Regions from separate parts of the Homo sapiens genome. Here region 1 is linked to region 2. Evidence: fine-mapped QTL for protein levels in blood plasma. A gene starts in region 2. The other region holds a variant in brackets. All regions are shown on one strand. Distances are between the middles of the regions.

Evidence for each region. PIP is the posterior inclusion probability: the model's chance that the variant is causal. The UK Biobank Pharma Proteomics Project read protein levels with antibody pairs (Olink). The fine-mapping took linkage between variants from a reference panel, not from the people measured, so its PIPs are less certain.
Region 1: its variant is fine-mapped to the plasma level of the IL31RA protein (UK Biobank, PIP 0.98).

The regions. Positions count from the first base shown.
Region 1 is chr5:55,914,137-55,916,636 of GRCh38, reverse strand. It overlaps IL31RA (interleukin 31 receptor A), which reads right to left. Exons shown (of 15, transcript NM_139017.7): 14 at 1,709-1,790. Among named protein-coding and RNA genes, the nearest start is that of IL31RA, 64 kb to the right of the region's middle. The variant C/G (reference allele first, on the strand shown) is at 354.
Region 2 is chr5:55,849,624-55,852,596 of GRCh38, reverse strand. IL31RA (interleukin 31 receptor A) reads right to left here and starts at 1,240. Exons shown (of 15, transcript NM_139017.7): 1 at 964-1,240. The coding sequence starts at 1,026.

The sequences.
Region 1 (2,500 bases), 64 kb before region 2:
AGAAAAAGGGACATCCCAAGTGGTCATTTAGGAGTCACATATGACATAGCCAAAAACTCGTTAGGCTTGGGACAGCAAATGCCCATCTCTGGAACAGCCCCCACCTTCCTCCCAGGCCCAGAAGTGGTAGCCAACCCTCTCTGCATGCCCTTCCACAGAGCTTGGAAGGAGTGGCACATTTCCTGAGAAACAGTGCCCTGGATTCAAACAATTTTTAAAATTTATTTATTTATATGTATATAATTTTTTTTTTTTTGAGACAGGGTCTCACTCCCGTTGCCCAGGCTGGAGTACAGTAGCATGATCACCACTCACTGCAGCCTCAACTTCTCAGCCTCAGGTAATTCTTCCCC[C/G]TCAGCTTCCTGAGTAGCAGGGGCTACAGATGCACACCACCATACCTGGCTACTTTTTAATTTTTTGTAGAGATGGGGTTTTGTCATGTTACCCAGGCTGGTCTTAAACTCCTGAGCTCAAGCAATCCCCCCTGCCTTGGCCTCCCAAAATGCTGGGATTATAGGCATGAGCCGCTGTACCCAGCCAATTCAAACAATTTCTTCTGCTAGAGTGTGCAAGGCTATTTTCCACACAATCCCATGTTCACAAAACCCCAGTTAAGATGGAAGAACTAAAATTAGAACTCTTAGGGATGGAAAAACCACATCATAGAGACAGACTTGTTCAACCTCACCAGAAAATCAGAAGTGGCCTCATGGCAGGGACAGTGACTTTGTCATTTGTATCCCTAGGGCCTAGCCCAGCACCTGGCATGTAGTGAGTGATTAATAAGTGCCGGCTCTAGAGGTCCAACCTACGGATTATTCAAAAAGCATGTTAGTTATCAGAGAGCACTGCCTATGAATCCATTTACTCTCTAAATGACATTTAATAAGCAGGAAAGTAAATGGGGGTATAAATCAGTCCAGTATACCGGACTGATAAGAGGAGGAAACAGAAAGAAAGCCCATTATAACAAAAGGCCCATGCTCAAAAAAGACTTCTGAGTGGGAACGAGGACTAATATTTAAAATTTGTGCATCAAGGAAAAACTGGAAACAGCCTTTCAGTAACAAGGATTTAAAGGTTATATTTGATTGGGCTTGTTTCTACGTAAGCAAGAAATTAAACCTTAAAATTTCCCTAACGGTTTTCCACTTAAAAATTTATGCAAATGGAGGGTTTCTAGTTAAGGAATACTCACTAGAAAACCCCAATGCCAGTTAAATAAAGCCTGACTCTGACGTCCCCAGCCTGAGAAAAACAACCTGAGGCAGCCTCAGACTGCCATGCCCATCAACATTCCCTGGTGATATTTAGACAGTCTTTAGATTAATGTGCTCTTGGCTGCTTTGTAAATGGCTTCAAATCCTATAGCCAAGGCTCCTCTCTCTCTAATTAGCCCATCAGGTCAGGAAGGGTAGGGCCAGTGTCTTTATTCTGCAGCATCCTTTATGGGACCAGTTCCACCTGGGAACGCACTGGGTCCTCATGAGCCTGGTGAAGCCCTTTCCCCTTGTCAAAGCATGAAGTCAAAGTCATTCCAGGAAGGCTGAGTCCATCTGCCCTGCCTGCCATTCCCTGAGACTTTTCAACTCCAGTTCTCTTGATGTGAACCTTGAAAAAAGCTCAGCCTAGGACTCTTTCCCCATCTCCATTCACCTCGTCTACCTCCCACGGCAATGATTTCCTTAATAAAAACAGGAGAGTTTACCTTGAAATCATCTCCATGCCATGTGGCTATACTACTTTCAGCAGGGTTGGGAACGGTGGGCCAACACAGATGAGTCAATTTGCTAATGAGAGAGAAGATTTTAAGATGGGAATTGAATCCAAGAAGCATTAGCACCATATGGCTGAGTCAAAAGAGTGAGGCTGTGCTAAAGGGAATTGTAAGTTTCCCTCCTAAATAAGGGCATGTCTGCCTAATAGAACCTGGGAAAGTGGAGTTGTTTTGCGGTGTGTGTTGGGGGGTGACATTGCAAGTTCTCTGTGGGATGTGATCAAAGGAGACTCTCCCCATACAAAGCCTATCTTCCCCTCTCTCCCATCCCAGCATCTCCATACCTGGTCCCAATGCTGTAAATTGCACCATCACAGAGTCATTCCTTTGAGGCTTATCCTCTGGGAAAGACAACATTTTATAAACCTTATAAGCTACCCATACTTTCCTGCAATGGTTCTCCAAGTGTGGTCCCAACCAGCAGCATTGGGATCACCTGGGAACTTGTTAGAAATGAACATTTTGGGGCTTTACCCTAGAACCACTGAATCAGAAACTTTGGGGGTGAGGCCTGATTCTGATGCATGCTAAGATCAAAATGATTACTTAAGTGCATAATGTACAAGAATCTATGCTGGTGGCTTGGTTATTACCTACAGTTGGTAACGGAGGTTGATATTAGCTTGACCATTAACTAAGTGCAGCTGCTTGACAGAGATGACTCACAACTGTCTAATTTGGAGAGACAGCTCAACCAGGGGAGGACCATTAGGGTGCCATAAG
Region 2 (2,973 bases):
ATTTTAATTTTTAACCCATTCCCCATCTTCCTTAGGCAATGTTCCACTAAGTAGGAGGAATAAGGGTGAGAAAGAGAGCTAGTCTTTTACCTAGAAGATTATAATTATGAGATATTTAAAATTCCAGCCAGGCGTGGTGGCTCACGCCTGTAATCCCAGCACTTTGGGAGGCTGAGGCAGGTGGATCACCTGATGTCAGGAGTTTGAGACCAGCCTGACCAACATGGCAAAACCCCATCTCTACTAAAAATACAAAAAAATTAGTCAGGCATGGTGGCAGGCACCTGTAATCCCAGCTACTCGGGAGGCTGAGGCAGGAGAATCGCTTGAACCCGGGAGGCAGAGGTTGCAGTGAGCCAAGATCGTGCCATTGTACTCCAACCTGGCGACAAGAGTGAAACTCTGTCTCAAAAAATAAATAAAATAAAATAAAATAAAATTCCATTATAATATACTATAGAGAAAAGCTAAATGCTAGCACAAAAATAGCAAGCATTTCTTGAATTTATTCAACCAATACTTAGTAAACACCTATTACATGCATAACAGCTCACTAAAGGTGTTGTGTATTAAATAGAATTCTGGTTAAGACAAGACCAATTGAGCATATACATTTATCTCTACTCTCTCAGGAAACTCCACAAAAATTATGGCAAAGATATAGAACCACAAGACAAAACAAATGGGAAGAGGCAACAGCAAATAAGAGATGTCAACAAATCTTTGGAAAAAGAGAAATGAATCAAGCCATAACTGAACTGGTAAAGATGAGAAAGCAGAAACCTAGAAATGCCTAATAAGGTTGCCAACAATAAGCAAACATAATTATGCCACGGAATCTCATACGGCTCAGGATTTGAGACACTAGGTAGGTAAAATCAACCCTCATTACTCACAGCTTCCTTATTTGTGAATTCACCTACTTGCTAGGAATTATTTGTAACCCCCCAAATCAATACTCACAATGTTTTGCGGACATTCACAGACACATGCCGTGGTGAAAAACTTGAGTTGCCTGATGCACATTCCCAGCTGAGGTGGAACAAGCTGACACTCTGCCTTCCTGTCTCAATTTTCATACTGCACACACATGTCTTTTCATGGTCTATTTAGTGCCATGCTGGTTATTACTATTTTTTTTTGCAATTTTTTGCCTTTTATGAGTGATTTTGCTGTTTCGAATGCCCCCCAAGCAGAGTGCTGGAGTGCTGTCTGGTGTTCCTAAGCAGAAGGAGGCTGTGCCTCATGGAGAAAATATGTGTGTTAAATAAGCTCTATTCAGGCATGAGTCATAGTACTGTTATTAGCCATGAGTTCAATGTTGATGAATCAACAATGTATATTAAATAAGGTGTCTTTAAACAGAAACACACACAAAACAAGGTTATGTATTGATTAGCTGACAAAAATGTTGTGACCAGAGGCTCACAGGCACCTAACTCTATATTTCCCCCACAGAGAATAATTCAGTATTTTCTTTTTTTCTTTTTTTTTTTCTTCTGAGACAGAGTTTCGCTCTTGTTGCTTAGGCTGGAGTGCAATTGCGCCATCTCAGCTCACCGCAACCTCCACCTCCCGGGTTGAAGTGATTCTCCTGCCTCAGGCCAGCCTCCCATGTAGCTGGGATTACAGGCATGCGCCACCAAGCCCAGCTGATTTTGTATTTTTAGTAGAGACGGGGTTTCTCCATGTTGTTCAGGCTGGTCTCAAACTCCTGACCTCAGGTGATCCACCTGCCTCGGCCTCCCAAAGTGCTGGGATTACAGGCATGAGCCACCACGCTCAGCAGTATTTTCTAATTCAGTGTTTGTGGCGATTTTATTGAACATAATTGCCAGGAATAATGAAGGAATAATGAGAATTGACTATACCTCTGAAACAAAAATCATAAGATTGGTTGAAAATCTGAAAAAGAAATAGACTACCTAATCCTAACCCCACAAAGCCAAATTCATTAAATTTCTCCCATCCCAACAGCAGATGGGGGGAAAAAACTTGAAAGAAAGGCAATGCAGAAAGCAGAATATTTTTTAAAAGAAATATTAGTTAAACCTTCATAGAAAATAAGAAAAAATGTTGTACCCACAAAATATGAATAGGATGCTATGATAAAGGCATAATTAGAGAACAAGAACTCTTGGAGATTCAAAATATGAGAGCTGAAGTCTAAAGACTAGAAAATAAAGTTGAGGAAATCTTCCAGAAGATAGAAGAAAAGACAAAGAGATGAAGAATAGCCAACATCTGACTACCAGCAGTACAGAAGCACAGAACAGAGGAATGGAGGGAAAGAAATAATGAGAGAAGTGATACAATAAAATTCCCAAGAATTGAGGAACATTTGTTTCCAGATTGAAAGGGCCCACTGTAAACAGCATAATAAATGAAAATAAATCTACACTGAAGTACAAAACAGTGAAGTTTCAGAATATCAAGAATAAACAGAAAAAAAATGTTTCCAGATAGGAAAAAAATAAGTCACATACAAAGGATCAAGGATGAGAATGGCTTTAGACTTAATAACAAAACCAGAAGTTAGAAAGCAATGGATCAATTCCTTTATAACTCTATTGGAAAATTATTTCTCACCTAGGATGCTCTACCCATCCAAATGATCCATCAGAAAGAAAGGTAAAACAACGTTCTTGAAACTGCATTTTCCAACATGCCAAGTTTCAAGAACTTTATCTCCCATGTGACCATTTTCGAGATGTTATTGAAAAAAGTGACTACAAAAACAAGAGCATAAGCCAAAACAAAAAGGAAAAATGGGCTCCCAAAAACAGCAAATTTCAAATAGAAGAGAGAGAATTCCAAGAATGGTGGCCAAGGGAGATCCCAAGATGATAAGAGTACAACAGGCTTGGAGAGCAACTAGCCCAAGTGAGTGGCAGACGCCAGGCTCAAGGAGGGATATTTCCAATGAAAAAATACATGGAGGGGACCCAATGGATCTGACAGATGTTGAAACTT